Linked DNA regions of Homo sapiens: region 2 is linked to region 1. The links come from fine-mapping of genetic effects on gene expression. A gene starts in region 1. The other region holds a variant in brackets. All regions are shown on one strand. Distances are between the middles of the regions. Region 1 holds the start of ZNF267 (zinc finger protein 267). Region 2 overlaps ZNF267 (zinc finger protein 267).

The links. PIP is the estimated chance that this variant, and not a neighbour inherited with it, causes the effect.
Region 2: its variant is fine-mapped to the expression of ZNF267 in blood mononuclear cells (TOPMed, PIP above 0.99).

What each region holds. Positions count from the first base shown.
Region 1 is chr16:31,866,662-31,882,232 of GRCh38, forward strand. It overlaps ZNF267 (zinc finger protein 267), which reads left to right and starts at 7,146. Exons shown (of 4, transcript NM_003414.6): 1 at 7,146-7,308. The coding sequence starts at 7,306. RefSeq lists enhancers at 6,967-7,261, 10,731-11,930, 10,933-11,222, 13,383-13,883 and silencers at 7,148-7,197, 7,348-7,427.
Region 2 is chr16:31,910,610-31,926,180 of GRCh38, forward strand. It overlaps ZNF267 (zinc finger protein 267), which reads left to right. Exons shown (of 4, transcript NM_003414.6): 4 at 3,867-6,748. The coding sequence ends at 5,872. Among named protein-coding and RNA genes, the nearest start is that of ZNF267, 45 kb to the left of the region's middle. The variant T/C (reference allele first, on the strand shown) is at 6,690.

The DNA.
Region 1 (15,571 bases):
AGACTCCGTCTCAAAAAAGAAAAAATAAATCAGCCGAAGTGTATTTCCTTTTCCTCACTCAACAATCAATACAGAATACTTCTGTGACCTCTGGTCACCAAAATTTATGGAGATTTCTCTATATCAACAGCCAATTCTGCAGCAGACACTGGCTGGGTGTTGTATAATTCAACTGGATTCTGACAACGTCTACCTGGAGCTTCAGGGCCCTCTCTTGGTGTGGGCACCCTACCTTCCAGGAACTGCCATGTATCCAGCTATCCAGAAGCTCTAGGAACCCCTTCATTTTGGGCTTTCCTGCAAGCTTCACTAAATAAGCATGATTGATTAAATCATTGGTTATTGGTGATTAACTTAACTTTCAGCCTCTCTGCCTCCTCAGAGGTTGCGGTGGGGCTAAGAAATGGTCCTATTAGAGTGAAATTGTATCTGCAGGCAAAAGACTGCAACATCCAGGTGATGCTTCTACATGTGAAGAGAGGATACCTGCTCCCAGGCTGCAGCACTGATCTGTGGTGCAAGAATTCTGCTGGCTTCATTTTCTGATTCTCCCCTGTTCCTCTCTGTTAAGTTTCACCACAAGCTCCACAGGCATCCCAGCCCTTCTCCTCCTTTGTCTGTGTTTTGGCTGCAGCTCTCTCAGTTGCTCTCCCCACCCCATGTCATCTCACATGGCACGTTATCATTCTGATGAGTAGTTTGAAATTATGCTAATACCATAAGAAACCGTTTTCAATGGGAGAATTCGAGGTCATTTAAAGACTTTAAATAAACCATTCTGACCACTTAAATGAGAATAGAAGAGAGTAATGTCTGTAATCCCAGGCCTGTTAGAATGTCTCTTATCAAAAAAACCAATGAAGGCAAGTGTTGGCAAGAATGTGGAGAAAAGGAAACCCTTGTACCCTATTGGTGGGAATGTAAAGTAGTACAGCCATTCTAAAAATGGTATGGAAGTTCTTCAAAAACCTAGAAATAAAAGTATCCCATGTAAAGAAAATGTGGTGCATATACACCATGGAATACTATGAAGCCATAAAAAGGAATGAGATCATGTCCTTTGCAGGGACATGGAAGGAGTTGGAAGCCATTATTTTCAGCAAACTAACACAGGAACAGAAAACCAAATACTGCATATTCTTGCATCTAAGTGGGAGCTGAACGATGAAAACATATGGACACATGGTGGGGAACAACACACACTGGGGCCTGTTGGGGGATGGGGGAGGGAGAGCATCAGGGAGAATAGCTAATGCATGCTGGGCTTAATACCTATGTGATGTGTTTATCTGTGCAGCAAACTACCATGGCACATGTTTACCTATGTAACAAACCTGCACATGCCCCACACGCACCCTGGAAGTTAAAGTAAAATTGAAGAAAAAAAACTATCCTATGATCCAGCAATTCCACTTTTGGGTATATATCCAAAAGAATTCAAATTAGGCTATTAAAGAGGGATCTGCCCTCCTGTGTTTATTTTGGCGTTATTGACAATAGTCAAGATATAGAAGAAATTTAAGTGTCCTTCAACAGATGAATGAATAAAGATGTGTATATACACAATGGAGTACTATTTAGCCTTTATAAAGAAGGAAATTATGTCATTTGTGATAACTTGGATTGAACTAGAGGGTATTATGCTAAGTTAAATAAACCAGGAACAGGAAGACATATACTGTATGATCTCACCTAGCTGTGGAATTAAAAATATTGATCTCACAGAAACAAAGAATAGAGACTAGAAAGGTAGTTACCAGAGGCTGTGTCAGGGGGAAGGGTGGGATAGGGAAAAAGAAGTAATTTATGGAAGGATACGAAGCTTTAGTTAGACTGGAGGAATAAGCGACCTATTGCACTGCACGGTGAGCACAGTTAATAATGTATTGTACATTTCAAAATTGCAAAATTAAATTTTTAATGTTCTCACTACAAAAAAAGATAAATTGGTGAGTGGATGGATACGTTAATTAGCTTGATGGAATCGTTCCATAATGTATACGTATATCAAAATGATCACATTGTATCCCATAAATACATAAAATTATTATTTGTCAGTAAAAAAGAAAAGACCGTCAGCCTGCTCTGGTTCTAGTGATATTATCTTTGATCTTCTGCCGCCACCTGGTGGCCAACTTCAGAGTGAGGAAGAAAGCAGAGGGGTGAGAAATGAAGTGACCACTTTGCCTCTGGAGCCCAAATGAGGACTTAGCTCCCGGATGTGGGTGGGAATGTATTCTTTCACAGAATTCTCCCAAATTAGGGCCTAGCCCCCAACAAAACCTTTGGCATCCTCCACGAAGTCCCCCACTCACGGCAATTGGTCTGCTGTGTGGCTGCTCTCAAAGGAGCTGAGACTGAAACCTGAGGTTGAAGAGCCACCTACTAGGTGGGAGGATTCTGGATTCCACAGGACTAAGCATTTCCTTTAGTTCAAGCAGGCAACGTTTCTCGTACTCAGTGGCAAACACACCACAGTACACACACATGCACATACGCATGCACCACAAGCACCATTTTAATCTATTTGCATGTATTTCATCCCAGGAGTGATTAGTCCTGTCCCCGATTCAATCTGGGTAATTTTTTTTTCTTCTCATGGTAATGCATGGAAATAGAGTTTCTCAGGTGTCTTTAGTGAGAGTACACACCCTGTTATTTTTTTTCTTATTTTTTTGGAATGCTGTTGCCAATTGGATTGATGTGCTGGTAGCAGGTTTCATCCAATCATTGCATGAAAGCACAGATACACCACCCACAGATGAATTAGGACTTTGTTATAGAATATATTTTTTCTTTTTAAAATAAAGCCTGTAGTCAAGTTTCTTTCTTCTTCCTTTTTTCTTCATTGTGAGGAAAGAATGTACTATGTTTCCATGAAGCGGAACTTCCATTTTGCTTCCCATAGTCTATTTGTCATCTTCCTCTCTCTCCTGTCACACCCCCTCCAGCTTGTCATGTGGCACAGTCCTTTTCTGAGCTCATGCACTTCTCAGCTTACCCTGACAATGGCAGTCATGAACACGTGAGTCAACCACTTCTAGCCTGTTGTTTTTTCCTTCAAAGCATAAGGAGGATGTCTCATTTCCTTCCTCTCAGGTTTTGTCAGCAGATAGAGCTTTACTGTAGTTTGCAGTTGCATGAGATGTGTTGCCCTCTATCCAGGGTGCAATGTGGCTTGGTATCACCCATGGACTGACCCCTTCTTGGGTTAATTTACCTATATAACTTTTCTGGAAGGGTGTGACCCTGGCAGCCTACGGAGACCCTGGGAATATCTTCCAGAGGGCCCTGGACCAGGGATGTCTGCCTGGGTGTGAGACAGACAACCTCTCACCCTCCATGTACCTCCTGGGTCAGGGCATGGAAATCTCACAGGCACCCTGCTCCAGGCAGAAGAGGAGGGGGCAGCCTTAGAGGGTGTGGGCAGTTCCCTGGCTCCTGGGGGGACTTCAAACTTATTGCAGACGGAAACCCCTTCTTCCTCATTTTCAGTCCAACCAACACACTTGGTGGCTAGAGAAACTTTACTTCCTGTTTTTATTTATATATTAAATGTTTTCTTTTCATTTTACACAAGATGTGTATTTAAACAACCAGATCCTGGATTTGAAGAAGAACATATCTGGAATCCGTTCTGTTCTTTTAATTGTCACTTAGTCCTGTGTGAGGACAGATTTGTTCTATGTGTAACCGCTACATTTAAAAAGTTATAAAATTGTTCTTAGCGTTACAATGATATATTTTTAAAAATAAAATTTTCTAATTGAACAATGTATGCAAAGGTTATTCCCCCTTTTTTTTTCCTGCCCCCAACAAACCTAAAGGATCACTATATTTTTTATACTGTTGTTGTTAAAGTCCTGGAATATAGAGATAAACAGTGAGTGAGCAGTCCCTGGTGGAGAAAGAGAGTCTTTTTCACAGAAACAGTGTTTTCCCTCAGCTGTCTTCATTGGAAATCACTCAACACCAATGACTCAATGGCCATTGGAAATCAATGATCGTTGTTCATTCAGTACAAACAAACAAGCAAACAAAAATTATCAATATGTTTGTACAGCTACGCCCGATAATTTATGTACAATAAAGGAATGAGGAACAGGAAAGTGAAGAAGAGAGAAAGGGATGCTGGACCAGTAGATGTGATGGAAACATATTGCAATTTTCTACGTGAGAATGTCTGCTTGGTCTGTAGAAACAGAGTTCTGGAGTAAAGCAGTGAGTATGTTCTCAGTAGACCCTCCTGTCTGCTTCTGGAACACATCAACTGAATCTTTGTCCTCCATTTCCAGTTCTGCAGATGTGTCTGTTTCACTGATTGGCCCCAGTCAAAATGGAATCTGATCTGTGTCATGTAGAAACTCTGCCTTTCACCAAAGGCTTTCACTCATTCACTAAGTGGTGTGCACCTCTTCAACATCAACTGCATCCTGGGACCATCCTACCTGCCACCTTCAAATTCTGCCATAGCGGAGCCTGAAGGCTCTTCAGCTGCAGCTTCACCAAAGAAGTCCAGAGTGTGCACCAAACTAGTGAGCCAGCAGCTCCCGATGCCGCAGGTGAAGGAGGCAGCAGAGCCTTACTCGCTGTTTTTATCACCATCCCTCCAGCAACAGCAGCAGCAGCAGCATCCACAACTACTATTTCTAATTGTGGTAATAATGATGATCACACTTAGAATAATGATAAATAACAGTAGTTGTAATTGCTGACATGTTTAGTTTATATATAGATTTATTATTTGTAATGTTCTATAATTTACTTTTAGTAATATACACATTAATTGTGTCATAAATATCAGGACCTCAAAACACCCCACCTAATGAGTGATTCTCACATATGGACCCATGGCTGCCCACCTGCTAGCGTGGGTCCTCTCACCACTCCACCCCCAGAGCTTCGATCTGTCTGGTCAACATTCTGGGACAATGAAGTAGTTAAGTCATATGGTCTGACTGTGGTCTTGGCAAATAGCTTGACTTGTTAGAAATCAAAGGCTGACTTTAAGACGTACTCAGCTGTTTGGCTAAATTGTGGCAGAAAAAAATGTCTTCTCAGCAGATATACCTTTGTATCTCTTGCTTTCAGAGTAAAAGATTGTTTCAGTCACAGTAGTTTGAGTTAATCTGTATTGAAAATCATCAACAGCTTACAAATACTGAAAGGGGACAAAAATAATTTGCAGACACATTGAGTCCATTATAAGTGCTTTCAAATCTCTCCTATAAGAAATGAAAAATAGAATGTTAGGCCTTGATTTCTTAAACTCAGCCTTCAGCCATTTTCCCAAATTATTCTACATGTTTCCAAGACATTTCAGAAGCATTCTCTGGTGGGGATTATTTCCAATTGTGAAGAGTACTAGAAGGATGAGAATCAAAAGGAATCTTTCTTCTATCGCAAAAGAGTCAATCTCCAGGATTTCAAAGGCCTAGGGAAGCTGCTTGAGTTGTGAGGTCCATGGAGGTGCATGGGCTTTGGAGTCAGGCAGAGTTGATCCTGAGTTCCAGCCCAGCCCCTTAGTAGGCCCTAAGGACTCCCGTGGTGCTGTCACAAGCAGTGCTGCCTTTGGGAGCCCCTAACCTCCTGTCTTTTCTCCCTTCAGTGTGGGAAAGGGGTTTGGTCAGCCAGTGGTGTCAGCAGCCCTGTCCCACACCCGTTGTCTACACCTAATCTGGTGGCAGGGAGGCCACAGAGTGCAGCGACTAGAACTGGGTGAGAGGGTGAGAGGCAGCCATGCCCCAGGCCAAGACAAGTGCATGGAATCCTGACTGTCAGCAATCAGGGATGTTTCTGCTTTGGGGAGGGAAGCATTTGTTCCACACGTCTCACTGAATAAGGCACAGAGCCTGATCTGTCCCAAGTGGGAGTTTAACCAAGCTAGATGGCGGCCGAGGGCCCTGGCCCAGTTTGACACCCACCTCCTCTCCCACCTTCTACTCAGCCAGAAGACTAGGAGAATCTACTCAGCCGGAAGACTACGAGGTGCTGCAGCGCCACTAGCTCCAAGACTCCAGAAAAACAGGAATAGGGCATTCTGGCAGGTCAAAGCAGACAGAATACTTGAGCTCAGGAGTTGGCGAACTGACTATTAACCTGTAGCCCCAGTTACTTGGGAGGCTAAGGTGGGAGGATCGCTTGAGCTCAGGAGATGGAGACCAGCCTGGGCAACATGGTGAAACCTCATCTCTACAAAAAATACAAAAATCAGCCGGGCATGGTGGCATGTGCCTGTAGTCCCAGCTACTCAGGAGGCTGAGGTGGGAAGATTGCTTGAGCCCCGGAGGCTGCAGTGAGCCATGACTGCACCACTGCACCAGCCTGGGCAATAGAGTGAGACCCTGTCTCAAAACAAAAGCAAAAACCAGAGGTAGGGCTGAGGAGTCCGTGGCCACAGAGCCTGAGCCAGCACGGCCCAGAGGAACTGAGCTCCCAGCCCTGTCGCTGCCAAGGACCCTTCTTCCCTGAGCTTGAAGGGATTGAGAAGGAGAGACAGACGGACAGTCAGCGGCCCCGTTACCAGTGATGCAGACTCCAGGAGATGCGGGCAGAGTTGTAGATTAGAAGAATAGGCCAGCCCCTCTTCCACGTTCCACCACGGCCCGCAACATCCTCCTGGGACCCCAGCCTGCATGCCCCTATAAGATGCTTTTGCACTGGTTCAGTCTATGTATCATGCGAGGGCCTAATTGAAAACACGTGAATGAAGTGTACGGCCTTCTGTTCCCAGCTGAGGGGCCCCCTCCCACGGTGGCGTTAGCAGTGGGGTACAGTGCGGTAAGAGAGGTGCTAAGGGACGGGATGAGGGTCTTTCTTGCTTTAAAGGTGTCTAAATATACTTCTTCTTAAACTTAATTAGCTAATAAGATGTCTTATACAAGCAGAACCAGGTAAGGGAAAGAGCAAGTGTATTTCAAGTCGCAGCTCACCCCTTAATTAGCTGTAATACCCGCAGCAGGCGGCCCCACCTCAATGAGCCAGTCTCCCTTTCAAAAAAAAAAAAAAAAAAGGCACTAATAATGAGGGGGCGGGGCATGGAGCTTTATCCAATCAGGGGCGCTGGAGTGGAAACCGTCCAATCAGGAGTGAAGCCGGAGAGCAGGGGCGGCTTCCGGGATTTGGCGGGGGCCTTCGTCGGCTCCAGTTAGAGCTCGGGTCTCCTCGCCACAGCTCCGAGTCTTTCGTTCTGGGAGGCCCAGGCGGCTTCGCGTTCTGAGAATAAACAGAACCTCTGTTGCTCTGCGACTTGCAGGCACTGGGAGATTCGTAGCTAAGACGCCAGGGCATCCCGGAAGCTGGGAAATGGTGAGTGTGCGGGGTCGGGGGTCCCCAGAGGGAGGGAGGGCGGTGGTCGGAAGCGGCGGGAACCCGCTGTAGGGGCACCCGGGCCTCCCCGCAGTCAGCCTCGGGGTCTGGGCCCCGAGTCCCAACTGGTGCAGCTCGGCCCTCGGTCCCCTCCGCTGCAAGATGGCGGCCAGGCCGGCAGCCGGGACCCCGCGTGTCCTGTCCCATCCCGACCCCGCAGAGCGACCTCGTCCCTGGCCGGAGCCCTCTCTGGGCAGCTCCGCGTCGCAGCCCCGCGTCTCCCCCAGATTGTGCGGTGAGGACGGGAGCGTCTCAGGGGAGACCCAGGTTCGGTGTGTGGGAAGAAACCGTGCCCTGTGGGGTCCTCAGTCACTACTCCTCTTAAGAATTAAAGGGAGTCACTGTTAAAACGTTGAAGAATTTGAGCAAATAGCGATTTGTGACATGGGAAGCCTGCAGTCCTGGTTTGTGGTTCGGAGATCCCCAGAGGGGCTTGAAGGAAAGGTTTTTATAAGGTGCATGAGGAAGCAGACCAAATTAACCGATGGGTTACAGTTTGTAGTTGCCTTATTTAGACTATGCAGGTGGAGGTGAATTGGAGCTTTGTGGTTCGTTAAGTCTGAATTTTGTTTTCCCCTAAAGTTGTAATTTACAAGAAAAGCATTTGAGTTTGGTTTTGGTTTTTCTCCCTAGAAACCTGGGGCACTATAACCACTTCCGTATAATCGCCTGCTCATTAATCATCTTAACACTGCCCAGGGGAACTGGTTTTCCCCCTGCGCTTTCCTAACGTGTAGCACGCAGAGTCTCAAGTCCACCACTGTGTTCCCCCAGTCTAACTGGGCTTGCAATAAAATATTAAATTTCCAGTTCCTTCCCGACATTTCCAAAGGCCAACTTCCCCTCTCCAGTTCACATTCTTAACTATTGGTCATTTATTGTACATTTCAGACAGTATTTTACTCATTAATCATGATTTCACAGAGCAGTGGATGACACTTTTTTAAAGATTTGTGTTTTTTTGGCATACATTTCACGTGAGAGGAAAGCAGAGAATAAAAAATCCCTGACACTCCACTGCAAAAAAAACTGTGCCTCTTTTTCATTCATCTTCCCCAGGCACAGACACGTTATCGGAAAGAATGTCTTTTGACTTGAGGTTTTGCTTTGGAAACTTTACAGGGCCCTGTATAGCCACCCTCTATCCAGTCTTTTCCTGTTCCTGAATTTCAGAACTGTCTGGGATGACTCAAGATGCCCACAGTGGCCATGTCTCCTGGAGTGTTTAGTGACTGTCAGCCCCAGGTCACCTCCTGTTAGAGGACCGCCCAAGGTATGGAAATGTAGTCCCTCAGGGGAGCAGCTGGATGCCCTGGGGCTGAGAGAAATCTCCTGGGACACCCTTAACCTAAAAAGATAACCCCTTGGGACATAAGGATTTTATTTCTTCAAAGCTAGTTTTCATCCCTTGGAGACACATTGCTGGTCAGCCAATCGTTTGCTGGTATTGAGGGGAAACAGTCACAAATGATTCCTGCCCCCTAGATTCATTCAGATTTGTGAAGGGAGAAAAACTCCCAAAGGACCAAAAAACAAAAACCCCACCCCAGTGAGGTGGTGCAAACTCGGCTGCGGTGTCCATGGGGCACAGTGCAGGATCTGGGAGGATGGTCCCTGAGCATTTTAATGAGCAGTATTGGGGTAGGAGAATGTCTCAAATGATACCGTGACCTGACTTGACACTTGAGCCAGATATGTCTGTATTCCAACAGCATTACCACTCCCTGAGTTTGCTGCCTTAGATTGTTCATTTATTTCTACTTCAGTTTTTCAGTTAGTGTAAATTTCATCAGTAGAGCTTGAAAGATAAAAAACATTTCCAAGGCCATGAAAGGTGGATTTCAGAAAATTAAAATATCAAGTCATACTTCATTGTTAAAAATTCTTACTATCTTTTTTTTCAGCAGAATGAGTGTAGTAAGTTTCTCAGGTTTGTTCTTTTTTTGGGAGTAATTTAAAACAGAATCTCAGGGCTCACCTTTTGGAAATGCTGCCAGGGAAAAGAAACAGAGAAAATCTTTCTTTCATTATTGGCTGTAGAAAGTGAATACATTTTCACAACAACGTGTGGTAAATTGGTGAATTACATAGTTTCATCAAAACATCAGTTTCTTTTTTTTGTAGGGTGAAGAAGTTATGACAGTGGATATCTTTGTTCTTTATCCTCTTGTCTGGATGTTGAGTTTATTTTTTATTTTTTGTTTTTGGAGACAGGATCTCTCCTCTGTCACCCAGACTGAAGTGCAGTGGTGTGATCACAGCTCACTCAACCTCCTGGGCTCAAGTGATCCTCCCACCTCAGCCTTCCAAGTAGATGGGACTTACAGGGGTGCTGCGCCATGGCTGGCTATTTTGTTTTTTCTTTTTGTAAAGATGTGGGTCTCACTGTGTTGCCCCCAGAGTGGTCTCAAACTCCTGGGCTCAAGTGATCCTCCCGCCTTGGCCTCCCAAAGTGCTGGGATAACAGGCATGAGCCACCATGCCTGGCCTTGGATGTATGGCTTTAATGCTGAACGTAGCACTGGCTAGAATTGTTTATATATGATTATTTACTAAATGATCTGTTATCATGGAAATAAGTAAGTGGCCTATTTATTGTCTGAAAGGGATAGATACTTTAGTGTTTTCTGTTGAGGTATAAATTATAAAGGCGTTTCACTTTCCTTTATTCTATAAACACTGTTTGAGTAGTTTTGCTTTCTTCCAACACTGGGCATTCTCATTGAATACTAATTGAATAACCCTGACTGGGAAGCAGAAGCCTGAGCTCAGAGAGTGCAAACTAACCTGGTCTTGAGCCTGCAAGAAGAGGTCACTGAAGCCCAGTTAGTTCTTCCAGGGGAGTTTCCCCTGCAGGTTTCCCAGCCTGCTCACCCCATCCATGGAAGGAGCCCTTTATACTGAGAAGCTACAGAGCCCTGGAAAGCTGAAAGCTGAAAATCCACAGAAAGAGGCATTTGGGGTTGGGATGGAAGGAGGGTTGGGAGGCTCTTTCTGAGGGTAGAAATTGTGATTGTCCTGATTTTGGTTTTTCTTCCCAGAAACCCAGGGCACTACAACCACTTCCATATAGTCGCCTACTCATTAATCATTTTAACACTCCCCCCACCCGACAACTGGTTTTCCCCCTGTGTTTTCCTAATGTGTGGCACGCAGAGTCTCAAATCTACCACTGTGTTCCCCCAGACTGAGGCTTGCAGTAAAATATTAAGTTTCCAGTTCCTTCCCCACATTTTATTTGATTTTGTCAAATAAAACAAATTCAGGTTTAGGTAAGAAGTTCCTTAATTCTAAAGGAGTATTGCAATAGGGGGAAAGCAACAGCTGTAAGATCTTTGTGGATCTCAAAGGTTAGGCAGACAAAGACTTTCTTTCACAGGGAGGAGCAAACAAGCTCAGAAGGTAGGAGGGGAAGGGCAGGATTAAGGTGCCAAAATCAGATTCGAGATCAGAGAATGTTTCACTCTGATGTCAGCCTGTTCTTAGGAGGGGCTTAGGGAGGGGTTGAATGTTGACCAGGCTGTGAGTGTGTCAAAGTCCAGCAACCTGGAGAAAAATACAAAGTTTTGTTAAGTAGTTTATTCTGAACACTGAAGACAGAGCTGTTCAGCTGAGTCAGAAGGGGAATTTGGAGAGTCTGTGGCTTTGTGATGACTAAATCAGGGAGCATCATCGAAGTCATAATAGGGTTGTTTTTTGCAGTAGGCTGTTCTTGGAAAACACAAAAGATGGGGGATTTCTTTAATCACAGCTATTTACCAGGTTACTGTTCCTATTTTTTCCCACTACTTTTTTTTTTGCCCTGTATGTATTTATCTCATTTGGCTGTTCTGAACTATATCCTTATGATAACCTGATAAACATAAGTAAAGTGATTTGCTGAGTTATTTGAGTAGATCTTTGAAATGATTGAACTTAAGGATAGGGTTATGGGTGCCCTCGATTTACAGGCAGTAGCTTGGAAGTATAGATAGGGCCCCAGGCATTGTGACTGGCATCTGAAGTGGGGGCAGTGTTGTGGGACTGAGCCGAGAACTTGTGGGGCCTGCGCTGACTCTGCGTGGTGTCAGAATTAAGTTTTTGGCACCCAGTTGATGTTGGAGGATTGGTTGGTGTTCAGCAAACTCTACACATTTGATGTCAGAAGACAGACCTCACAGAGGCCTGGGCTGGAGAGAGACTCCCAAGTGTCTGTGGGAAGAGAGGCTGTGTTCTGCACACAGGCTGCCCCACTGTGCATTGTCCTTTGATTCCAGGTCTCCTGCTAGGGTGAGAAGGGACTGAACACTGAGAGGAAAGGAGTTCTGAGAAGAGACCCCCTCCCCGACCCAGCTGCCACCACATGATTCCCACCCACTCCTGAACATACCAACTAGGCATTGACATGTCCCCGTCCATCCCAGGAGAAGGCTTGACTGTCAGGAATTGCACCCACAGCACCTTTGCTTCCGGTTTCCTGCCAAAAACCCACACAAGTGCCTGAGGACTCCTGGCTTGTTGTAATCCCAGACACTGAATCCGTAGCAGCAGCCTAGTTTCTCCATCAACCTAGGCTTGTGGACCATCCAATCATAATCTCATCTGCCTGCGTGGACCCAGGGATATGTCAGAGCATAGTCCCACCTGGGCCAGTATCTGTAGCACAAACCAGTCCTTCCACCAACTTGGTACTGCCCCCTGCTCATGGCTCAATAGCACCTTCCTCTCTTCTGCCTTTTACTTCCCCACAAGCCCCTTCTTTATGTGTACACGGTGTTCCCAAGGTCACCCCACAGGTGCCTGAATCCAGCACCTATTGGAACTCAGATGTCTGTGAGCTCAAGACCATGGCGCTAGATCTGGCTGTTGTAAGAGCAAATACAAATTAGAAATACAAGACTTAATCCTTCTTGAAAATAAGGAAAGAAATTTTTCTTTTTTTTTTTCTTAAAGCATTTACTTTGGAAAACTTTCATATGTAAATTATTTTTCTGTTTTACAACCTGTCTAAATCACTCTTAACAGCTAAATAGGCCATTTGTCAGTCTTTTTGACTCAGTACTGCCTTTCTCTAGGAACTGGGAATCATTGATATAAAATGTAAATAGCAAAGAAGATAGATCCATATCCTACAGTTTCTCTAGGAGGGCAGGCACCTGGCTCCAAGTTGCAAATCTGCCTGTCATAAAGACATGAAGTTTATTTTTCCTTTGACTATAGCCAATTAAAAAACACAGATGGCCTCCCAATTCCCAGGTGAATTTAGGATGAACTCTCTCTGACAAATGGTGCTGTCAGGTCTTCTATTGAGGACTAATTATGGTGACTTTTCACCAGTGGGTATTTTTCTAATCTCTTAGCAGGTTGCCTATCATTCCTTTACATTCTGGGCTAATTATGTCATAAAACAGTTTTCTTTCTTTTCTACCACTATGGATAGTTTTTCTGGGGTTGGAGATGATTTTATGATTTTCTTCTTCATTATATTTTTCAAACATTGCCCAGAATTACTACACAGAATATAAACCTGTACGATGCCTGTAAGACTTCACTCCAGTGGGTCCTTTCCCTCTTTGATTTCTGTTCACAACCCACATTTGTGCAGCAAAGTGCCCATTGCCCCGAAAATCTGCAGGCAGAATGGTCTTTCTGCTTACTTGGGATCTTCAGTCGCTTCTAGAATAGTTTGACTAGATTTCTATAAAAATAAGTTTACAGGGCATCAGTTAGCCATTCCAGCTCTGTCTTTCCATGCCCCTGGCATCTTCAGACCTGAAACTGATTCAGAGACCATGGGGGCTGGAAACCAACCAGGCACACACATACATTGAGCAGGCCGGAGAATCTCAACATTCCCTTCATCCTCTTGCCCAAATGCCCATGAATGTGCAGAAGGTGCATGCCACTTCCCTGCGCCACCAGCACCTAAATCTGCAGCTGTGAATTCTGAACCCAGGTCCTGAGGTTCTCCAGGATGTGTGAGAGCAGCCTTCCTGAAGGGCTGTCTCCTCTAGTTTTCTTCACAGCAATACACAAGAATTGCAGAGCCAGGTTGATTCCACCTGGGGTCTGCACATAAAGGCTGGTCTCCACCTGGGATCCACAAGACAGGGCCAGACTTTGGACTCAGGATATATAGAAAATCCAGGGGACATTTTCTGCATTGTGAGAGATCAACATGGACTTTGTAAAGCCCTACTTTTGGAGTGAGGCCCTCAGAGTTTTCAAGACCTTGTCCAGTGAGCTACAGCAGTTCTGTGAGTGGTTCCTTTTTATAAACAGAATCTCGTGGCAGAATCTGTAAGTGTAAAGCAGCACCTTAGCAGAGGGAGGGTGGGGCCACCACTGTCCAGAGCCATGAGTAAAGCTATGCCTACCTGTGAGCTGTGTTACTGGAGTAGGGTAATCTTGTCCTTTCTTGTACCCAAGAGTCAGCTGATCAGGTATAGGTAATAACATATCTGGATCCTGGATCTGTGGCCCTACTATGACAACTCAATTTTCTATTCTGGTTCCACAAGGACAACTTGAGTCTTTCCTGCCTGAATCACTATTGGGTTTTCATCACACAGTTACCAGGGACTCTCTTACCAGCACCTAGGGGACACTTGGTTATATATCCTGTGCAGGCAGGGGACAGGCTGACAACGGGCTAATCTTGCTTCCGTCTCAGAGGGAGAAGAATGAGTCATCAGGGTTTGTTTCTTTTTTAACAGAAGGAATCTCCTTATTTGGTATCCAAGTGGGAGTTGCTCCAGTTTTCTAATGTGTGGGTGAAATACAAGGAGGAGTTCTGGAGACTCATACTGATAGGTAAACCAATTGCTTCCATTTCATATGGCCACTAGGAAAACAGATGCAGCAGCCATAGTCCCTACCATCCAGGAACTTTCAGTCTAAAGCAGACGGATAATGGTTGAATTCAACATCATGTGGTCAGGAGCAAGAATGGAGGTGTACAGGGAACTTGGGCTTGATTTGGGACACTGCCCTTATGTTGACGTTGTGAATTCTGATGTCACCACCCGAAGGGCCACCCGTGGACAAAAGAGTTGTTATTATAATTATTATTTATATTGATTTTTTCTTGTTAAAGATAATTATGTAGCTACTAATATAATTTTCGTAGAAAGCCCTACATGTTTTGGTTAAATTGCTTGTTGCATGTTACAAAATAGGATGAAGCTTAAACTATTTAAACAAGGCAAACCATGGGAGTCAAGTTCTTGTTGGTCAGGCTTAGGAAAGACAGCTGAAAATAAAGCAGCAATGTAGAGATGAGAAGCCTAGCCCAGCCCCTGCCCCAGCTCTGCCCAAATCCAGCCTCTTCTGAGCCTGGTCCAGGTCTGTCCCTACCCTGGAGCCTCCCCTCACAGAACTGACTAGAGGAGATCAGATTTCTGGGTGGCCGCTGCTGCCATCTCTTCAGAGGTGGTGCTCACAATTTCCCCAAACCCAAAAGCAGGTAAATGGGAGCACAGGACTCACTTTTTCAAAATTATTTGAAAATTAAATTTTTTTCTTATTGAAACCAGTACCTTTAGAAACATTCCACCTGGCAACATCTTTTTCATTTCTGCAGATCCAGTAGTTGCTTCACAAGTTGTCACAAAGTCAGTATAAAGATATAAAGAGAATAATGAGAAATTCTTTTTCTTCTTCTTTTTTTTTTTTTTTTTTTTGAGACCGAATCTCACTCTGTTGCCTAGGCTGGAATAGTGTCATCTCGGCTCACACAACTTCTGCCTTCCCGGTTCAGATGATTCTCCTGCCTCAGCCTCCCGAGTAGCTGGGATTATAGGTGTGCCACCATGCACAGCTGATTTTTGTATTTTTAGTAGAGACAGGGTTTCACAATGTTGACCAGGCTGATCTTGAACTCCTGACCTCAAGTGATAACACCCATCTTGGCTTCCCAAAGTGCTGGGATTACAGGCGTGAGCCACCGTGCCCAGTGGAGAAATTCTTGTGAACTAAACTTGACTCCTTCCTTTCTGTATCCCTCCCATCTGTCTATAGTTAGCTTTTATAGTGATAGGGAAACAAGAAGAAATAGAAAGGCTGAGCCATTATCTAAATCCTGCTGGGAATTATGGGATACTTAGGACCCATATCCCAGGGGTTTATATGGCTTAACTCACACCATGTGATGTTCCCAGCACAGTACATACTGTGAGCACATAGTACAAGCTCAATAAACACTGCTTTAATGCATGTATCCGTG
Region 2 (15,571 bases), 44 kb after region 1:
CTGGTTTTATGTGGGTCTTCTTTTTTTCTTAGTCAAGCTAAAGGTTTGTAAATTTTATTTATCTGCTTAAAAAAATCAACTTTTCATTTCATTGATTTTTTTTGTATTTTTTATTTGAATTTTATTTCTGCTGTGATGTTTATTATAATTTTTGTTTTGCTGTTTTTTCTTTAAGATCCAACATTAGGTTATATGATTTTTTTCTTTTTTGATGTAAGCACATATATCTATACATTTCTCAGTACTGCTTTTGCTGTATCCCATAGGTTTTGGTATGTGTTTTTTCATTATTTGTTTGAAGAAATTTTTCAATTTCGTTCTTAATTTCTTTACTGATCCAATTTTCATTGAGGAGCGTATTGTTTAATTTACATTTGTTTGTATAGTTTCCAAAATTCTTGTTACTGATTTCTAGTTATATTCCATTGTGGGCAGAGATGTTTGATATTATTTCACTTTTCTGAATGTTTTAAGACTTGTTTTGTAACCTAAAATGTTGTGTATCTGAAAATTATCTATGTGCTGAGAAGAATGTGTGTTCTGTAGCCATTAGATAAAATGTTCTGCAAATATTTATTAGGTATATTTGGTTTATAGCACAGATTAAGTCTGATGTTTCTTTCATGATTTTCTATCTGTAAGATCTGTACAATGCTGAAAGTGGTGTGTTGAAGTCTCAATTATTATTGTATTGGGGCCTCTCTCTTTAGCTCTAATACTCTATGTCTCAGTGCTTTAGTGTAGGGTGCATGGATATTTAAAATTGTTATATTCTCTGACTGAATTGATCCCTTTATCATAAAATGACATTTGTTCTGTCTTCACAGTTTTTATCTTGAAATATATTTTATCTGATGTAAGTATAGCTACTTTGGTTCTTTTTTTTTGTTTTCATTGGCATGGAACATTTTTCCATTCTTTTATTTTTCAGTCTATGTGTATCTTTATAGATGAAGTGTATTTCTTGTGGGCAGCAGATAATTGGGTCTTCCTTTTTCTTTTTTTCACCCATTCTATGTCATCTAATTGGAGTGTTTAGTGCATTTCCATTCAGCATTATTATTGATAAGTATGTGTTCACTCCTGCCATTTTGTTATTTGTTTTTGCATCTTCTCTTTCTTTTGTCCTTCCTTTCTGTCTTCATTTTAGTGAACATGATTTTTCTTGGTGGTATGATTTAATTTCTTGCTTTTTGGTTTCTGTGTCTGTTGTATGTTTTTTTATTTGAGGTTACCATGAAACTTACAAATACTATCTTATAACCTATTGTTTTAACTGCTGACAACTTCACACTGATTGCCTAAGTGAACAAATAAGCAATAAGAAAACTAGTAAAAACTCTACCTTTAACTTTGCTTCCCCATTTTTCAACTTTTTGTTGGTTCTCTTTATGTCTTATTGTACTGTCTTTGTCTTGAAACATTGTTGTAGTTGTATTGAGTCATCATTGAGTATTTCTACTTGAGTATTTTACACACCACAGTTACCATATTATAATACTCAGTTTTTCTCTGTGCTATTACCAATGAGTTCTGTACCTTCAGATGACTTCTTATTGTTCATTAACATTCTTTTCTTACAGATGGAAGAGAATGCCCCTTAGTATTACTTGTAGGACAGGTCTGGTTTTAATGAAATCTCTCAGTGTTTGTCTGGGAAGGTCATTTTTTTCTCCTTCATGGCTATGGAATATTTTCACGGGATAGACTATTCTAGTGTAAAAGCTTTGCTACTTCAGCACTTTAAATATGTCATGCTATTCTCTCCTGGCCTGTAAGATTTCCACTGAAAATCTGCTGCCAGACGTACTGGAGTTTCATTGTATGCTGTTTCTTTTTTCTTGCTGCTTTTAGGATCCTTTATTCTTAATTTTTGGGAGTTTGATTATTAAATGTCTTGAGGTAGTCGTCTTTGGGTTCAATCTGCTTTGTGTTCTGTAACCTGGTTGTACTTGGATATTGATATCTTTATAGATTTGGGAAGTTCTCTGATCGTATTCTTGAAACTTTCTACCCCTGTCTCTTTCTCTCTTTAAGGCTAACAACTCTTAGATTTGCCCTTTTCAGGGTGTTTTCTAAATCTTGTAGGCATACTTCATTCTTTTTTGTCTTCTCTACATATTTTCAAATTGCCTATGTTCAAGCTCAATAATTTTTTCTTTTGCCTGATCAGTTTTGCTATTAAGAGACTGATGCATTCTTCAGTATGCCAATTGCTTTTTTAACTTCAATTTCTGCTTGATTCCTTTTAATTATTTCAACCTCTTTGTTTGATTTATCTGATAGAATCTGAATTCCTTCTCTATTTTATCTTGAATTTGTTTCCTCAACACAACTATGTTGAATCATCTGTCTGAAAAGTTACTTATTTTGTTTCTCCAGGATTGGCCTCTTATGCCTTATTCAGTTTGTTAGGTGAGGCCATATTTTACTGGATGGTCTTAATGTGTAGATGTTCATCTGTGTCTTGGCATTGAAGAGTTAGGCATTTATTGTAGCCTTCGCAGTCTGGGCTTTGTGTCCACCCTTGTTGGGAAGGCTTTCCAGAATTTGAAGGTACTTGGATCTCAAACTCAATAACGTTGTTCTTGCAGACTCATAGAGGTACCATGTGGTTGGTCTTGGTTAAAATCGATGAATTATCTGGATTACCAAGCAGAGACTCTTGTTCTCTTCCCTTAGTTTCTTCCAGACGAATGGAATTTCTTTCTCTATGCTGAGCTACCTGGAGCTGGGGTGGGATGACATAAGCTTCCCTGTTGCCCCCACCACTGGGACTGTGCTAATTTAGACTTGAAGTGAGCACAGCACTGGGTGTCACCCAAGGCCCAGTGTAATTACTGCCTGGCTACCACCTAAGTTTACTCAAGACCTTAGGCCTCTACAATCAGCAGGTGGTAACCAGCCAGGTTTGTGTCTCCTCAGGGCAGTGAGTTCCCTTTGGCCCCAGGTAGGTTCAGAGATATTGTGTGGGAGCCAGGTATTGAAGTCAGAAGCCTTATTTATCTCGTGTTCTATTCTACTGCAGCTAAGCTGGCATTCAAATTACAAGACAACATCCTTACCACTCCTCCCTCCCCTTTCTGCAGGCAGAGGAGCCTCACAATGTGTCTGCCACCACCACCAGCCCACAGGGGTTTCCACTGGGCTATCACTGATGTTCACTCAACACCCAAGCACTCTTCAGTCAGCTTATGATGACTGCTTCCACAACTGGGACTTACTCTTTGGTGCAGGGCAGGTCCAGAAATGCTGACTCAGGGACCCTAAGAGTCTGCTTGGTGCTCTACCCCACTGTGGCCAAGCTGGTACCTCAGGTGCAAGACAGAATCCCATTTACTTTTTCCTCTGCTTTGCTCAAACAGAAGGTGTCTTTCACTATACCCACCACAGTGGGAAATGTTCTGGGTCACACCTGAAGCCAGCACATCTCGGAGTCCAATGTTCATGATGTGTTATTGGGGTACCACTGTAGGTTATTCAGAGACCAGCAGCTCCTAAGTCAGAAGGTGATGAATCCTGCCAGGTCTCTGCTGTGATAGGGCAGCACTGGGTTCATTGTAGTCCCCTAGTCACTGTGCTCTCCGTCTCCCAAATGAACAGATTTCTCCCCGCCATGCAGATGCTGCTGAGGGGCAAGGGCAAGGTGGCACAAGCACTCCCTTTCCTTCACTGTTGGTGTCTTAGTAGTTCACGTGCCACTTTATTGTAGTAAAGTTTGTATATCAATTGAGAAAACACGGCCTCAGGTTTTTCACTCAACTGTTGTTGTATTCTCAACTTAGCATAATTTTGTATATTAGATTTGTAAAATATATGTACCTGAATATAGTAATTGGAATTCTTAAAATTTTTATATCTTTCAGATGTGTTTTCGCATTATAACAAGGACCTGTTGACAGAGCACTGCACAGAAGCTTCATTCCAAAAAGTGATATCGAGGAGACATGGGAGCTGTGATCTTGAGAATTTACATTTAAGAAAAAGGTGGAAAAGGGAGGAGTGTGAAGGGCACAATGGATGTTATGATGAAAAGACTTTTAAATATGATCAATTTGATGAATCCTCTGTTGAAAGTTTGTTTCACCAGCAAATACTTTCTTCTTGTGCCAAAAGCTATAACTTTGATCAATATAGGAAGGTCTTTACTCATTCATCATTGCTTAATCAACAAGAGGAAATAGATATTTGGGGAAAACATCACATATATGATAAAACTTCAGTGTTATTTAGGCAGGTCTCTACTCTAAATAGTTACCGAAATGTTTTTATTGGAGAGAAAAATTATCATTGCAATAATTCTGAAAAAACCTTGAACCAAAGCTCAAGCCCTAAAAATCATCAGGAAAATTATTTTCTAGAAAAACAATACAAATGTAAAGAATTTGAGGAAGTCTTTCTTCAGAGTATGCATGGGCAAGAGAAACAAGAACAGTCTTACAAATGTAATAAATGTGTAGAAGTTTGTACCCAGTCATTAAAACATATTCAACATCAGACCATCCATATCAGAGAAAACTCATATAGCTATAACAAATATGATAAAGATCTTAGTCAGTCATCAAATCTTAGAAAGCAGATAATCCATAATGAAGAGAAACCATACAAATGTGAAAAATGTGGGGATAGCTTAAACCATAGTTTGCACCTTACTCAACATCAGATCATTCCTACCGAAGAGAAACCCTGTAAATGGAAAGAATGTGGCAAGGTCTTTAACCTTAACTGTAGTTTATACCTTACTAAACAGCAGCAAATTGATACTGGAGAAAACCTTTACAAATGTAAAGCATGTAGCAAATCTTTTACTCGTTCCTCCAATCTTATTGTGCATCAGAGAATTCACACTGGAGAGAAACCATACAAATGTAAAGAATGTGGCAAAGCCTTTCGCTGTAGTTCATACCTTACTAAACATAAGCGAATTCATACTGGAGAGAAACCTTATAAATGTAAAGAATGTGGAAAAGCTTTTAACCGTAGTTCATGCCTTACTCAACATCAGACAACTCATACAGGAGAAAAACTTTACAAATGTAAAGTATGTAGCAAATCTTATGCTCGTTCTTCAAATCTTATTATGCATCAGAGAGTTCATACTGGAGAGAAGCCTTATAAATGTAAAGAATGTGGCAAAGTCTTTAGCCGTAGTTCTTGCCTTACTCAACATCGGAAAATTCATACTGGAGAAAATCTTTACAAATGCAAAGTATGTGCTAAACCTTTTACTTGTTTCTCAAATCTTATTGTGCATGAGAGAATTCATACTGGAGAGAAACCCTATAAATGTAAAGAATGTGGCAAAGCCTTTCCTTATAGTTCACACCTTATTCGACATCATCGAATTCATACTGGAGAAAAACCATACAAATGTAAAGCATGTAGCAAATCTTTTAGTGACTCCTCAGGTCTTACTGTGCATCGGCGAACTCATACTGGAGAGAAACCCTATACATGTAAAGAATGTGGCAAAGCCTTTAGTTATAGTTCAGATGTTATTCAGCATCGGAGAATTCATACTGGCCAGAGACCCTACAAATGTGAAGAATGTGGCAAAGCCTTCAACTATAGGTCATACCTCACTACACATCAGAGAAGTCATACTGGAGAGAGACCCTACAAATGTGAAGAATGTGGCAAAGCCTTCAACTCTAGGTCATACCTCACTACACATCGGAGAAGACATACTGGAGAGAGACCCTACAAATGTGATGAATGTGGTAAAGCCTTCAGCTATAGGTCATACCTCACTACACATCGGAGAAGTCATAGTGGAGAGAGACCCTACAAATGTGAAGAATGTGGCAAAGCCTTTAACTCTAGGTCATACCTCATTGCACATCAGAGAAGTCATACTAGAGAAAAACTTTAAAAATGTAAAACATGGAGCAGATTTTTTACTTGTTACCCATGTCTTATTGTGCATCAGATAATTTATATGGGAGTGAAACCCTACAAATGTTAAGAATGTGGCATAACCTTTAACTATTTTCAAGCCTTACACAATAGCAGAGAATATAAACTGAAAAAATCCATACAAATATTAAAAATGTGGCAAATTATTTTAAACTGTGCTCAACCCTTACTCAAGATAATCCATACTAGAGAAACACTATAGATGTAAAAATGTGAAAAGTTTTATTCAAAATATCAAACTTATGAGTCACCTAGGGGTTCATAGAAAAAGGAAGTTTGCAGATGCAATAAATGTGAGGAAGTATTTAATAAAAAATGAAGTCTAAATGTGTCAGAGAATTTATGTGAGAAAGGACTAAAGCACAGACACTTTCAGCCTTTATACTAAATAAGAGTATTTTTTGTACAGAATAATCTAAAGGCAAAATAATTAGATAATTTATTTGCTTATATGTTTTAAAGTAGCAAGAACATTGATGTTTTGACAGGTATATTTCATAGATACTTCATTTGTATTTACAGTATTTGAGGTTTTTGGAAAGCAAATATTATTTATATAATTCAGCTTTCAAATCTGTTGCTGCTTTTCCTTAATCCGTGGTGTTCATGTGAAAATATGTGTTCTGTTTTTTTTTCTGCATCAGAACAATGTGAGGTCATTCTACGTTAATATCATTAATATCAGCATTTTTCATGGAAGTTTAATGCCAAATGTAAAACACATGAAAATTTTTAAAAATATGCTCTTTGTGTTTGAATAAAGTAGTAATGCA[T/C]GTAAACATATACGTGTTTAGAGCTCTTTTCTATATTAAAGTAAGAGGGATATTCTGAATTTTTGAAATTACTTCAATTCCTCCATAAGTTTTTTTTTTTTTTTTTTTTTAAAAAGACTTCATTTAAAGCAGAGGTCCCCATTCCCAGGCTGTAGACCAGTTACTGGTCTGTGGCCTGTTAGAAACTGAGCTGCACCAGTAGGACATGAGTGGTGGGTGAGCAAGCATTACCACCTGAGCTCTGCCTCCTCTCAGATGAGTGGTGGCATTAGATTTTCATAAACCCTATTGTGAACTATGCATGTGAGGGATCTAGGTTGTGTGCTCCTTAGGAGACTCCAACTAATGCCTGATGACCTGAGGCAGAACATTTTCATCCCAAAACCATCTCTCTCCTTGCCAGTTTGTAGAAAAATTGTCTTCCATGAAACCAATCCCTGGTGCCAAAAAGGTTAGGACCACTGAGTTGAAGTACTAACATATCTTTAAAACAGAATAAAGTAGGAGTCTTTAGTATTATTTGATGTGATAGAATACATAGTGAAAAAGTTGAGTATTTGATGTGATGAGAATAACATCTTCACCTGTATCAGGGAAATGTGAAGATAATTCCTATCAACATTCACTAAATAATTAGCCTCACTTTAAAAAAACGTAGAAAACAGAACTGCAAGATTAGTATATTGGAAAAAAAGAATGCTTCTTGAGTACTTGTAACTGTATTTTGACCAGGAAGAATATAGTGGATTTTAAAATGCTGTAGACTATGGGTGAACTTAATTTCTTTTAATAAAATGAGTTGGTTTTTCATGTTTTAACACTGATGTACAATGAATGAAATGTTGTACTGACACCAGTGTTAAACTATTCCATCTTATCTAAGATTGTGGTTAACAGATGGAAATAATATACTATGGGTTAACAGTGAAATGTCTTCCCTAATATTCCTTTTGCTGGAGGACTTAAACTTTCAATAATTTGGAGAATAGTTTTCTCATAGTGACTATCTTAATAATGATTAGATAAGGCAGGTAAGATTGAAAGGCCACAACTTAGCAGCAAATGTTTTACATTCATTTGAGAGCCAGTTTGTAAGTAGTTCACCAAAAGATGTTGGGTTAAAGCAGTGGTTTGAATTAATTGCATAGCATTCATATAACAGAATACAACTCAGCCTAAAGCTCACACCCTATATGAATCTCATAGACCTCGTAAGTGAAAAAAGGTAGACATAAAATTGTGTTTTGTATATTTATGTATTGTATTATTTCAGGCAAAATAAACCTATGGTGAAATAAACACATTGATAGCCTCTGGCTGAGGAAGAAAAGATAGGTGCCTGGGACAAAACACGAGTGAATTTTCTGAAGATGATGAAAATGTTCTGTTTCTAAACTAGGTGAAGGTCGTAAGGGTTTATTTGTCAAAAATTTACAACTAGAGTTTGCGTCAGCCCATTGGTGCTGCAGAGTCTGTTTCCTTTGGGTTGGGACCTCATTCCTTTGAGTTGGGACTTCACCTCATTCAAGTCCTGGCAGAGTCACTAGAAGAGATGTGATGATCTTGTCCCAGACCCCAAGAGTGGGTTCTTGAATCTCACACAGGAAAGAATTCTTGGTGAGTTGCAGAGTGTAGTAAAGTTTATTAGAGACTACTCAGTTACAGAGTAGGGCATCCTCAGAAAGCAGGAAGAGGAATGCCTTGCAATGAGAAGAGATAGTTTATTGAAAGCTCCTCTGTTAGAGTAGGCCTTCCTCAGAAAGCAAGAGGAGAAATGCACCCATTTCAAATGGTTATATAGGTTATTAAGAATGGTATACTTTATTACAGAGGATTCTAATCAGCTTATGACAGGCTATTAGTATTGTTACTTTTCTATGTTACTATTGATTTCAGCAAGAATTTATGAGTACTATTTTTAAAGCAAAACATACTTAAACTAATAATGCTTTTTCTTAAAGTACTGGGACATTTTCTTAAGTTTTGAGTTCTTATTTAGTTGATTAACATCATTAACTCAGTGTTTCAACCATAAACATCTTGTGACCAAGAGTGCCCAGCCCCCTCGGAAAGTAATCCAGCAGGTTTGGCATTTTTTTTTTTTTTTTCTTGAGACAGAGTCTCGCTGAGTTGCCCAGGCTGGACTGCAGTGGTGCAATCTCGGCTCACTGCAATCACCGCCTCTTGGGCGTAAGCCATTCTCCTGCCTCAGCCTCCCGAGTAGCCGGGATTACAGGTGCCCGCCACCACACCCGGCTAATTTATATATTTTTAGTAGAGACAGGGTTTCACCATGTTGGCCAGGCTGTTTTTGAATCTCTGACCTCAGCTGATCTGCCCACTTCAGCCTCCCAAAGTGTTGGGATTACAGGTGCGAGCCACTGTGCCCGGCCATAGGTTTGGCTTTACCTGGCCTTTATTCAAGATAGGGCCTCTAGTTAGGATACTTCTGGCAGAATTAGCATGATTGTTATCTGAGAGTGGTCTATCACACTGCAGTGAGGAAGGGTGTTGAACAGCGACTAAGGTGTAATGGCTGCTCATTTGGCTACAGAGGTCCAGCTAGCAGCAAAAGTATAATGACTTGAGTAGGAATTACAGTTAGGAAAAGGATTTTTAAAGAGCTCTATAGTCCAAAGTTGACTTAATAAAAACTGATATTTACTCTACGTACATACACATATGCATGGTTTTAAGATCTCCTCTCTCTGTAAAAGTCAAATGAATTCTGTTTCTCCATTTACTTCTGTCTGTCCTTCCTCTTGCCACTCCAAATGCCACATGAGGGGAACGCCCCCCAAAAAAAGAATTCTAACAGAATTCTAGCCTAGAATCACAGAAAACAGAAAAGTTGTCACAGTCTCCTCCTCTTGGGAGGAAACTGCTTTTTCTCATGAGGCCCTCAGAGTTGTAAGCAGAGAGATCCCTCTCAGGTCTAACACTCTGCTCTTTCTTGTATTGCATTACTTGATCTCCTTGGCTTTGGGGGATACCAGAGATTACATTGTACTATGAGAGAACTTGACTAGGTGGATGTAATTGCTGGTGAGTCACTGGCAAGAGCTATGGTGTTAGAGGGCTGACAGCAGTCGCTTACAGTAAATGTTTATTACTCTAGGGAGTTGCTTATTTCTTTGGGTGTTTGGATAGAAAAAGTATGGTTTAGAATGTAGAGGCTACAGAAACAGCCCCCAAGCCACCCCACCGAGGGGTAAGACACCCATGTGGGATGCAGTAATCATAGTGTGTGCTGGCATAGGATTGCCTACCAACCTCAAATGAATGTCCCTCTACTGAGGTGCACTATGGAATCATTGAACTGCCCAGTCCTCTGGCATGGCATTTCTTTTGGGGGCTCAGAATTCAATGTAAAAATGGGATTCTTGATTTGGGAGAATCTAAGTGTTATGCCTTCCAGCTGCTCCTGCTTTGCACATATTTAAATATTAAGCCCTAAAAACTGCATGCTTCCTTTGCTTTATTTATTAAGTGGCTCCACCCTGAAGCCAGTAATCTAAAAAACACACTACGTTAAAAAGCCCATCTAGCCAACTAAATCAGTCTCCAAAATGTGCAACTTTCCGACATTTAGCTGGCTGTTTTGCTTCTCTTTGTTAAAACACACACACACACACACACACACACACACACACACACACACACACGAATACTTTTCTCCAGGACCTGGGAACAATGTATTTGAAATATAAATACGAAAAAAGATAGTACCCGATCTCACAATTTTGCAGTAAGATAGAAGCCTAATTTTATCAGGCACTTAATTCCAAGTTGCAAAACAATTTTCTGTCACAAAAGTTGGAAGTTTATTTTCCCCCCCGGTTTTTTTTTTGAGACGGAGTCTCGCCCTGTCGCCCAGACTGGAGAGCAGTGGCACAGTCTCGGCTCACTGCAAGCACCGCCTCCGGGGTTCACGCCATTCTCCTGCCTCAGCCTCCCGAGTGGCTGGGACTACAGGCACCTGCCACCACGCCCAGCTAATTTTTTGTATTTTTAGTAGAGACGGGGTTTCACCGTGTTAGCCAGGATGGTCTCAATCTCCTGACCTCGTGATCTGCCCGTCTCAGCCTCCCAAAGTGCTGGGATTACAGGCGTCAGCCACCGCGCCCGGCCTATTTTTCCTTTTAATAAAGCCAGTTATCAAACCTAGATCATCTTTCTAGTTACCAGGTGAATTTAGGATAAACTGTGCCAAATGGTGCTGTCAAATTTTCCTACTTGAGGGCTACTAATATTAATCTTGACAACACATATGTTTTATAACTCAAACCAGACTGTGATGTTTAAACACTACATGTTTTGCTTCTGATGCACATCACATTCTGGTTTGAGTTATAAAACAATTTTATCTCTCTTCTACCTTTGTGGGGAGGCATTCTAGGTTGGGAGGCAATGTTGTTTTAATTATATTTCCCAAGCACTGTTCAGAATTACAAGATCAAATATAAACATAAAAGGTACCGATCAGGTTTCATACTAGAAGGGACTTTGGCAGATACCCATCAAATTTTCTTTCAGGCTTTCTTCCCCCAAGCCACAATTGTTCAGTGAAGATCTTGCCTGCCCTCAAAATGTGAATGCAGTATGATCTTGCTGCCTATTTTGGGCTCTGCAGTTTCATCTGGGGCATAGTTAGAAAAGATTTGTAATAAAATAACCTCATAAAGTGGCAATCATCCGTTCCAGCCCTGTCTTTCAATGTACCTGGGGACTTTATAACAGAAATTGATTCAGAGAACATGGGGCCTGGTAGCACAGACATGTACCTGCGCATTGAGTTGGCCTCTTCCACTTCCCTGTCTCTCTGGGAACCTAAATCTGCACCACTAAATTTTGAATGCAGTATCTGGGGCTCTTCAGAATGCTCTATAGCAGCCTTCCTGGAAGGAATCTCTTTTCCTCTTGTCTCTTCTTGCTGTAAAACCCAAGAATACAGAACAGATGCGATCCCTCATAGAATTTGCACACAAGGGGAATTTGCCTCCCCGTGAGATTCATAAAACAGGGCCAGCCTTCAGTCTGAGGATTACAGAAAATCCAGGGCAGACCTTTCTTGTATCATGAGAGATCAATACAGACCCTATAAAGCAGGAGGATCACTCAGGTTGGGGCCTGTAGAATCTTTTATATCTTGTTCACCAACCTGCTGCCATTGTGTGAGGAGCTTCTGGTGGTCAATGCAGAATCTATAAGTGTAAACAAGCATTAACATCAAAACTACAACTTCCAGGGACACCAGAACCTGCCTTGTTTAGAATGTTAAATATATCTTTTCCAAAAAATTGATAATATTTGATTATCTAATCAAAATATTATAACTATACATTAAACCTTACATAGAAAGATGTTAAAATTCTGTTAAACTTTCTTGAATTTTGTTTAAATGATCTTAAAATTCTACACTTTGGAATACTGACTTCCATTCTTTAAAATCTGTGCTTTTCTAGGCAGTCTATCCTAAATGTTTGTATTTAAATAAAGTCTTTTAGATTCTAATCTTTCTGATGACTTTAGGTTGACGTAACTATAGTCACAATCTTGTGAAAGAAATCTCAAAAACATATTCCTCTTTTGGCTTTCTCATAAACGGTTTGGCCACAGAGTCAAGGAGAGAACATTGGAGTGTCTGAGAGCGTGGGTCTTGACTAATTTTAATCAGCGTTCCTGGGCACAGAGGACATACCCTCCATTTCATTCCTGATGTAATATTTGATGTAGTTCATGTTACTATAATCTTGTTACTGTGATCCACCAAAATATGAGGTTAAAAGACCTTTCAATCTTTTAGGAAGAAAAAGTGTTATATTTTCCTCATCTTTTTGGGTTTCGTGGTCAGAAACATGCACTGGCAGACAGGATTTTTAAAGTTTCCAATAATTTGTAGCTCAGGATTTGTGTCCAGTGTTTTTCTGTCTCCTACCTCTGCAGCTGCCTTCTCTGACTCATGTTTTTCTCACATGAGCTGAGAATAAAATGTCTTGAGATTGGGAGTGTCCATGACTTGCGATGCATCTTACTCTGTTTAATGAATAGTAGATGCATGTCTGTTTTTTGACGGCATCTAAAATATCATAATTATTATCTTGCCATTTGTGCATTTTACACAAATATTTAATAAAACTGTTATTAGCCAGGAAGGGCAATTCCCTTTTCTGATATTGCTAGCTGTGTTTCTTGGGTTGCCACTATTGCCACTGAATGAAAAAAACCTTTTCTTCACCTAACCAGGTAATCTGCAGTTCTCATAATCGCTTTGTGCTATTGATGAGCAGTCATATGTTTTTCAATGCTATTTATAAAGTACGGTAAAATCGATGAGGAATATGATGCTTTCGATTGTTATACTAATAAAACACAGGATATTTTGTGATATATAGCTATACTTAAATATGTCAGGAAGAATGCAAGTAACTATTAAAATAATATTGTTAATAAAATGATGTAGAATTCCAAATCCTGGCTCATGAATGTGATGTACAGCTGAGGCCAAACAGTGTCACCGGTGCCTGGAGATAGAGGAAGGTTTATTCAATGGGGCCAAAGTAAGAATGTAGGAGAGAAAATTTCTCAAATCCATCTGAAAAAACAAAGCAGCATCAGGGGATGTTTATTCAGCCAGAAGATAAGGAAGGGGGAGATTAAGGGAATTGAGGGGAAAAGTGTGTATTTCTTCAGTCTCAGATAACATCTTGGCCAACAAGACTTCTCGGTGTCAACAGCTGGTAACAATGTCCTTCAAGGCATGTATTTCTTCTGCAAAATGTTTCTGTGACCCTCCTGCTTGAAAAAGAAAATTATCTCTTCCTGCTTGACAACAGTATATCAACAATTTATAATTTTATTGTAGAAACAAGGGATGCTGGCTTTTGTGCAAGCAAGCAAAGGTTTAATTAGAAATTTCATTATTTCAGTCGCTAAAAATGCTGGGGTGCTGAAATCTCAAGGGGCTTGGTTATAATAATACAACACTAAACAATAGCTATTATTATAAAACTGAGGAAATAAGTCTTATAAAACTTTATTTTTGTCTAAGGTAACATTCTGTAATACAAAATAACATTGGTTTTGGAAATGGCTTCTTTCTTTGAAGTCATTTTTTTTTTCAGACATTTGATCTAAGCACATAGACTTTATGATTAGCTTTTAGTTCCTGGTTCACTTGATGATGTTTTTCCTGACATTTCCATGATTGCATGGAAGCTTTTGGGCTTGCAATATCATAAACAAGCTAAGATGAAAGTGAGAATAAGGAAGATGAACTTGTTCTGCATTATCCGTCTCTGAGAGTACCCAGGGGCTTCACCCTCAGCCTGAGGACAAACTGTCACTGTTCAGAGCAATCTGAGATGTGCATTCAAATACATATATTTGTATGGTATCAGATGGCACCCAATTCTCCTCCATGCTCCTTCCAATCTATATGACCTCTATGGATTTTTCTTCTTTTGCTTTTCTCCTAGGTCTGCATCATGTTTTCAGATCCTATGATTATTTCATGTTGGCGTTGATGGATTCAGCAAGTAAAACTACCAGACACACAGTTACATCTAAAAAGCAGAAAGACAACTACTAACTCTGTAGTATAAGTATTTGGATACTCTATATGTAATTCATTATCTGAAATTTATTTAACTGACTATCTTTTACTTTATTTGTTAACTCCAATCTGTGAGAAACATAGTCCTCTCTAGTCCAGGCTCAACACCAATGCCCTCCAGAGTCTCCTTGGAGAGGGAGGGCTCATGCTGATGTAGGAGAAACACTTTTTTATTAGTACATCAGAGTTATTTAGAGTGAAGAGCATACATTAGAGGTGATGAACTGGATATCCCATGTGGTAAGAGAAGAAAATATTAAAATTTTAATCTTTTCTATTATTTTTATCTCTTTTGGGTATATGAACTATCATATAAGAGGATAAAAATAAAATAATTCAGATATAAAGTTATTAAATAATTTCATGAATATTAGCATTTTATGTCCAAATATTGTTTTACTTGTATGGGTTTGTGAACCTTAAGATGTGGAGACCATTGAGCCTTTAAGGCAATATTCTTCTGGCAATTCTCTGGCTTCTTATTGTTAGCAGACTTCTGAATGATTCTACTCCGAGGTCATGCCAAGATGGTCTTCTGTTGTTGGATAAAGTCCTCTATCAGGGAAGAAATAAGTTTATTGGGCTGTGTTTTCTTGTTATCTGGGGGATTGAAAAACACTAAGTGTTGGTCTCTGTTTTTCTCAGTTGAGTTAGGGGAATAACATGCATTGCCACAAAACAATTCCTTCAGTTCTGGAGTCCTTAAGCAGACTGTCTTCTTCATACCACCTTTCAGAGCTCTCCTTTCAAGGCTTCCTGTGTGATTTTCAAGGTTTATAGCTGTAGTTAGTGGAGAAATGCAGGGGGAAATGGGTCTGTTATAAGAAAAATTTTAGACTGTAATATTTCCCTGTCCCACAATCTGGAAGGGAGCCGAGACTAAATAATGATCCAGACCAATCCAGCTTGGCAAGTAGATAAGTGTGTTAAGACTTACATGTGGGACCCTCCTAGGAGGCAGCAGGACAGCGTTAGAGTCCACATCACCTCCCATCTCTAAGCTGCTTTTAAGCACTTTTACAGCTTTTTGCCTACCATGTGTGTATCATGGGACTCTCCCTTGGTATGTTCTCAGATACTCTCTAGGATGTTTGCATTCTCAGAAACACCTGCTCCTCAGCTGGTCCCCATGGCCTTGGCTCACTACCTGGCCTTCAGTGCTCAAGCAGTGGATATACACCTTTAAGTTATCTAGTGGAGGACTTGTCACACTATAGGGTCTACATCATCCTTTCCAAACTCAAAGTTTCTACTCACAGACTTTTTT